Homo sapiens: one gene and its partner. The protein of the gene in region 1 purifies or fractionates together with the protein of each later gene. This does not show direct contact. Each region holds a gene or a part of one and is shown on either strand. Other genes may lie near its edges. The genes, in order: CAPN9 and MPI.

Region 1 (3,815 bases):
CGAGACCGGCCCGGCTTCCTCCCTCCCTCCCTCCCTCCCTCCCTTTGTTTAGGTCTGTGCTCCTCTGCTTCCCCCAGAGACGCCTCCCCTGCTGACTGCTGTAGCTAGCCTTGCCCCATCCCACCCCTTCCCTCTCCATCCTCGCTCTTTTCTCTCCTGGTTTATGGTTTGTCTCTTCCTCAAATGCAATTTGCAAAACTCTCCTGAACGAAACAACAGCTTCTGGGAGGTGGTGGCAGCTGCAGGCACAGTGGGCGCCGTGGGTGAGGCCAGGGCTGAGGCAGGCTGGGGGAGGGGCGGGGCAGGAGGCTGGGAAGGGGCGGGGCTTCCGAGAGCACCGCCCTCCGCGTCCAGGGCAGCTCCACCAGGGCAGGGGCTTTCCCTCTCTCTTTGTTGTCGTCCAATGTCAGGAATGGAGCCCAGCAACTCAAAGAGTGGAAGAATATATGCATATCATAAGATTGCTTTCTACACTTTTTTGTTCATGTTTTATAAATACCCCTCCATATTGTATATGTATATATTAATATGTATTAATGATTACATTAATACACATAGTGTATGTGCTTATGTGTAATATAGAATAATATATATATAATGCACTTCGGTGAAACAATATGAGAGATGTGTGCATATCTCTCTTTATATGGTATAGATACATGAAATTTTACCTAAGCGCATCTCTGTAAAAAGAAACACTGAGCAGGGTGGCATGTGTCTGTAACCTCAATACCTTGGGAATCCAAGGCGGGAGGATCACTTGAGGCCAGGAGTTTGAGACCAGCCTGGGCAACATAGCGAGACCCCCATCTCCACAAAAAAAAAAAAAAAAAAATTAAAAAGTGGCTGGGCGTGGTGACTCACGTCTGTAGTCCCAGTTACTTGGGAGGCTGAGGTGGAAGGATTGCTTGAGCCCAGAAGGTCAAGGCTGTAGTGAGCTATGATCATGTCACTGCACTCCAGCCTGGGTGACACAGCAAGATTCTGTCTCTAAACCTATATATATTTGGAATCCACTTTGTGGGGGAAGGATTATATAAAGAAAGAAATGGAGAAGCTGGGTGGGTAGGGAGTATGTTTAGTCCAAGGCCCCAGCCTGTGGTACATGCATTACTCAGCTCCTTGAAGCCCACAGAGGTCACAGAGCTCACAGCTGGGATAGCCCTGGACTCCTAGCCCAGTGCCTGAGTGAGCACAGGAATCCTCAGTGTGTGGCTGATGTCCAGCTTTGTGGCCGGGTGTGGCCTGTGTTTCTGGCCAGAGATTGGTGCTGAGTGCAGCTCAGGAGGCAGGACCTCTCCCCGGCGGAGGAGATTTACCAAAGATGAGCCCAGCCTTATCCAGAGCATAGAGAGGTGGCAGCCTTTTACATCCACGTGGCCCTCCTCAGGGAAAAGAATCAAGCACAGGGAAAGCCCTCTGCCCCAAGAAAGCAGAGAGACCCTGAGCCTACCCTTTCATAGTGGCTTGCAGCATGGCAGGCCTCAGCCTAATAACACTCTCATTCCTCCAGGAAATCGTGAAAAACCCAGAATTCATTCTTGGAGGGGCCACCAGGACTGATATCTGCCAGGGAGAGCTGGGTGAGTGTAAGTGGATGGAGCATGGCGAGAGGGAGGTTGAGTCACTGGGACAGGCAAGCAACTGCAGCATGGGGTCCCTGAGGACCCAAGAGGCACGGGGCTGGGGGAACAACACTGCTTCGGCCTCTGCTTCCTCACTCCCTCTGAATGGAGTCCAGTGGCCTCAAGCCCCTGCACCTCCGTTCCTCTAGAGTCAGACATGCCTGTGATGTGGGGCTCACAGCCCCGGAGTTTACAGAGGAAAGTGACACCCAGCAGCGTTGGTCGGGCTCTCCTACACCACCACAGTAGCTAACACCTGCACACATGAACTCAGTCACCTGCGAGGTACTCTCCCCAGCACACATTGCCTCATTCCATCTTCACAACCCACCCTCCTAACGTCACAGATGAGGAAATGGAGGCTGAGGAAGGCTAAGTAACTTGTCCAAGGTCACAGAGGTGGTAGACAGGCAATCAGGATTTGAACCCAGACACTCCAGCAGCAGAGCCCTTACTGCTAACCATTATACACACCCTGGGGAGCCGCTCCCCAGCAATCCAGTCTCCCTCCTGCAATGAACCTGAGTGCACCTCAAGTCACTCAAATTGGGTCCTGCATTTTAGGACTTAATCCAACTGGGCTGGGTTTACCTTTGTTCTATCTATGAAAGACAGAGAAAGTGAGAGAGCGAGAGACTTTCTTTTAAAAAATACCAGTGAAATCAGCCTAGAGAACAAACCACTGCAAGCTTGTGTGGACCCTGACTTATTTCTAGCTGAGGTTGTCACTGTGGTCTATTGGTTAAGAAAGGCCATGCTGGAACCTCCATGCTGAGCAACTGAGCTATCCTAAACACAAGATCCAAAGTCACAAACCTAGACTGATGTTAGTTAATTAGCTAGACAGAGAGACAATTGAGAGAGAGAGAGAGAGAGAGAAGCAAATGGATAGATAGATAGAAACATAGATAATAAGTAATAGATGATAGGTAGAAAACGGATGCATAATTAGATAGATAAATAGGTTGATAGGTTGATTGATTGACTGATAGACCATACAAAATAAATATATAATAATAGATAGATGGTAGTAAATAATGATAGGAAGGTAGGTGGGTAAATACATGGATGGATGGGTATAGATAGATGATGGATGATAGACGGAATTACAGTTGACCCTTTAACAACATGAGTTTGAACAGTGCAGGACCACTTCTAAGTGGATTTTTTTTCAACCAAACACAGACAGAAAATACCGTGTTCCAGGCTGAGCGTGATGGCTCACACTTGTAATCCCAGCACTTTGGGAGGCCGAGGCAGGAGAATCGCTTGAGCCGAGGAGTTCAAGACCAGTCTGGGCAACATAGTGAGGGCTCGCCTCTACTAAAAATTAAAATTGAAAAATTAGCCAGGCTTGGTGGTGCATGACCATAGTTCCAGCTACTTGGTAGGCTGAGATGGGAGGATTGCTTGAGCCTGGGAAGTTGAGGCTGCAGTGAGCTGAGATCATGCCACTGCACTCCAGCCTGGACAACAGAGTAAGACACTGTCTCAAACAAACAAAAAGGAAAAAAAGGAAGGAAAGAAGGAAGGGAGAGAGGGAGGAAGGGAGGGAGGGAGGATGGAAGGAAGGAAGGAAGGAAGGAAGGAAGGAAGGAAGGAAGGAAGGAAGGAAGGAAAGGAGAAAATATACTATTCCAGGATTTGAAACCCGCATATACAGAGGGCTGACTTGGTATAGGCAGATTCCACAGGGCTTACTGTGGGACTTGAGTATGCACAGATTTTGGTATACACAGGGGTCCTGGAACCAATCCCCCATGTATGCCATATTCTAGATACAATGTAGACTTTTCAAAAGGTTTACATTCAGGTGGTCCTTCTCCAGGAGATCCTCCCTGCCGCTGCCCACCTCTCCCCCTCTTCCTCTGCCTCCCTTCCCCTCGACCCCGTAGTCCTCCATTGCTATCCAATAGGAAATCATTCTACTGGCTCCTTTGTTTTTCAAAGTTTTGGTTTGTCACATTGGCATAAACATATATTTGGAGTTACAACCTTATATTTTACCTTAGTGGATGGTTGATTCTAAAGATTATTTTGTAACACTTTTACTACACCAAAGTACTGTACATGGCATATATATGTTATAAAGAATAACAAGAAAATGAACAGCCGTGATCTGTTGCCACCCACAATAAGAACTAGAACATCTGGTCATGTAGAGTGCTCACACCTGTAATCGCAGCGCTT
Region 2 (3,815 bases), on another chromosome or scaffold:
ATACCTGGGGAACCAAGATGATAGGAACAGTGGCTGAGAACGGGTCACATGTCACAGGAACTGAAGGGCCTCATGAAGCAGTTTTTGGAGCCAGTGAGCCAGGCCAGTGAGACCAGGCTCAGGTGTGGTAGTCAAGGGCTGGTGGTGAGTGATTGGTTTCCACTGCAAAGTTTACTTAGCATTGCCGGCTCTTTGGTTAGGGCTGGGATGGAAAGGTGTCCTCCAACTCCCCACTTGTGTGGGTTCCATCTTACCATTCCTGATATGGGCCCTGGGCCTTGCCTTCCTGTAGAGGTGCCTGAGTTTCAGTTCCTGATTGGAGATGAGGCAGCAACACACCTGAAGCAGACCATGAGCCATGACTCCCAGGCTGTGGCCTCCTCTCTGCAGAGCTGTTTCTCCCACCTGATGAAGAGTGAGAAGAAGGTGGTGGTGGAACAGCTCAACCTGTTGGTGAAGCGGATCTCCCAGCAAGGTGGACACAGTTATATTCCTGGTTGGGTGCAATGCTCTGGCCTGGGCTTCCCAGCAGACACCAGACTCTGGGGACAGTTCTCAACCCCCTTGCCCAAGTGGAACACTAAAAGGGGCCCCACTTAGATGACCTGTTGGCAACTTAGCATTGCTTGCCTAGTCTTTGTGGAGCAGGGCCCTTCTTAGTTGAGTGCTGCTTCCCAACTGGTCATCTTCTCCAGATGGTTGGAGGCAGACTGGCATAGAGGACTCTTAGGATGCCTTCCACCTAGGCATTCTGAGATTTTCCCTAGCCCTGCAGCTGCCCTCCATGGATGGACTTGTATCTCGGGGCTAAAGAGGCAGGAAGGGGACACGAGCATCCTCCCTCTCCTGGAAAGGACTGATGCCTCCAGCACTCAGTCATTTGATCTTTCCTTTACCTTCTGTGTGCCCAACCTTGTGCTAAGAAGAGTTCAGGAAATGACTGTGATGGGTGTGGTCACTGTCACCCTAAAGGTGGGGAGTCAACACAAGCAGTAAGAAACCCAAAACAGAACAGACTCCCAGCAATGAGCTTATGTGGTGCAGGCGATGAGGTCTCAGCTTCTTAGCCTGGCAGCCACAACCCCTTCTCTAGGTGGCCCAGAGCTCTCTTTTTATTTTACCTCTACAGGTTTCCCATTACCTTTGAGCCTTAGGGCATTATTTATTTGACCCAAGCATATTTTTTTCTGTTCAGTGTGTGTGTGTGTGTGTGTGTGTGTGTGTGTGTGTGTGTGTGTGTGTGTGTGTGTGTGTGTGTGTGTGGTCTCTTTCTGTTGCCCCAGGCTGGAGTGCAGTGGTGCGATCTTGGCTCACTGCAGCCTCTGCCTCCCGGGTTCAAGCAATTCTCCTGCTTCAGCCTCCTGAGTAGCTGGGATTACAGGCATGTGCCACCACATCTGGTTAAGTTTTTATATTTTAGTAGAGACGGAGTTTCACCATGTTGCCTAGGCGGGTCTCGAACTCCTGAGCTCAGGCAATTCACCTGCCTCAGCCTCCCAAAGTGCTAGGATTACAGGTGTGAGCCACCACGCCAGGCCCCTTGCCTCACTTTAAAGAAGCCTGGCTGGGCACGGTGGCTCACACCTGTAATCCTAACACTTTGGGAGGTTGAGGCGGCCGTATCACTTGAGGTCAGGAATTCAAGACCAGCCTGGCCAACATGGTGGAACCCCATCTCTACTAAAGATACAAAAATTAGCCAGGCGAGGCAGAGGTTGTGGTGAGCCTAGATCATGCCACTGCACTTCAGCCGGGGCAATAGAGTGAGACTCTGTCTCAAAAAAAAAAAAAAAATGCTGGGCATGGTGGTGTGTGCCTGTAATCCCAGCTACTCAGGAGGCTGAGGCGCAAGAATCACTTGAACCCAGGAGGTGGAGGTTGCAGTGAGTCTAGATTGCACCACTGCACTTCAGCCTGGGAGACAGAGCAAGACTCCGATTCGGAAAAAAAAAAAAGAAAAAGAAAAAGAAAAAAAATTTAAAAATTAAAGAAGTCCACCCTTGCCACTCTACCCAGGCTGAGCTCATTTTCCCTTGTCGTTTCCAGGACACATTTTGGCCCTCAGCGCATTCTGCCTCATGCTCTCTGGAGCAGACCGAGAGAGATTCTCTGAGACATAGAACTTTCTTTTTTTTTTTTGAGACGGAGTCTCGCTGTGTCACCCAGGCTGGAGTGCAGTGGTGCAATCTCGATCACTGCAACCTCCGCCTCCCGGGTTCAAGCGATTCTCCTGTCTCAGCCTCCCGAGTAGCTGGGATTACAGGCACGTGCCACCACACCTGGCTTTTTTTTTTTTTTTTTTTGTATTTTTAGTAGAGATGGGGTTTCACCATGTTGGTCAAACTGGTCTCGAACTCCTGACCTCGTGATCCGCCTGCCTTGGCCTCCCAAAGTCCTGAGATGACAGGTGTGAGCCACCGCGCCCAGCTGAGACACAGAACTTTCAGTGCTAAAAACTAGAAAGTCGCCGGGTGCGGTGGCTCACACCTGTATTCCCAGCACTTTGGGAGGCCTAGGTGGGAGGATCCCTTGAGTTCAGGAGTTCGAGACCAGCCTGGGCAATATAGCGACCCCCTCTCTCTGCAAATAATAAAAAACTTAGCCGGGCATGGTGGCATGCACGTGTGGTTCTCGCTACTCAGGAGGCTGAGGTAGGAGGATTGCTTGGTCCTGGACAGTTGAGGCTGCAGTGAGGTATGATCGTGCCACTGCACTCCAGCCTGGGTGACAGCGAGACCCCGTCTCAAAAAAAAAAAAGGGAAAGCTCGGGCATGTTGGTTACCCTTCATGAAACTCTTTTGCGTTATCTCCCTAGATTTTGAGCTCCAAGGGCAGTGGTTCTCATACAGGGGACATTTGGCTGTTGTCTGGAGCCATTTTTTGATTGTCAAAACCCAGATAGGGGTTGCTAGTGGCATCTTGTGGGTGGAGGCCAGGGAAGCTGCTACACATCCATCAGTACACAGGACAGCCCCCACAATAAAGAATTACCTAGCCCAAATGTCAGTAGCGCCAAGGCTGAGAAATCCCATCCTGAAAGGACCATACTCTAGCTCTTTTAGTGGCTAGTATAGTCCTGGGCATATGAATAGTCAAGATATGATGAAAGATGGTATTTGTATGGACTGGAGTATCAAGCAAGGCTCGACCCCCAAAGGGCTGGAGGCGTGGCCAGAAGGACAGGGCCACTTTGGCTTCTGGATTCCTGTGGCAGGGACCTTTTCCTAGGACTCCCTGGCCAATGTGGGGCTATGAACAGCACTGAGTATCCCCCTAAGTGACCTTGGGGTGCTCTGTGACCCTCAGCGGCTGCCGGAAACAACATGGAGGACATCTTTGGGGAGCTTTTGCTACAGCTGCACCAGCAGTACCCAGGTGATATCGGCTGCTTTGCCATCTACTTCCTGAACCTGCTTACCCTGAAGCCTGGGGAGGCCATGTTTCTGGAGGCCAACGTACCCCATGCCTACCTGAAAGGAGGTGAGCCACATTTCAGCAGTGAGCCCCACTGCCATCCCTGCTGGGCCCTGTTTCCCTATCTGGACAAAGGAAGGAGAAGGGTGGTCAAGGAGACCCCCAAGGACCTTGCAGCTCTGACCTCTGAGGGTTCCTGGGCTCAGCAAGCAACAGCTGGTAGGGATGATGAATGCATTTAGCATTGAACACGCCTTGAATCCTGACACCAACCCTGTGATGCCATGCTACTCTGATTTTAAGTCCTGCCAGTCAGTGTGGGAACCACAATTTGAACGCAGGCTATATTGGATCAAAGCTGTTGTTCTGTCACAGCCTTTGTATGTCTGTCCTACCTACCA

Evidence for each region.
Region 2: the proteins of CAPN9 (region 1) and MPI fractionate together in Homo sapiens (co-fractionation; one large-scale study listed by BioGRID). This does not show direct contact.

What each region holds. Positions count from the first base shown.
Region 1 is NC_000001.11:230,753,824-230,757,638, forward strand, and holds part of CAPN9 (calpain-9), read left to right. Parts: intron 1-75; exon of another isoform or gene 76-263; intron 264-1,513; coding exon 1,514-1,583; intron 1,584-3,815. UniProt on the Homo sapiens protein: Calcium-regulated non-lysosomal thiol-protease.
Region 2 is NC_000015.10:74,892,846-74,896,660, forward strand, and holds part of MPI (mannose-6-phosphate isomerase), read left to right. Parts: intron 1-292; coding exon 293-475; intron 476-3,306; coding exon 3,307-3,480; intron 3,481-3,815. UniProt on the Homo sapiens protein: Isomerase that catalyzes the interconversion of fructose-6-P and mannose-6-P and has a critical role in the supply of D-mannose derivatives required for many eukaryotic glycosylation reactions.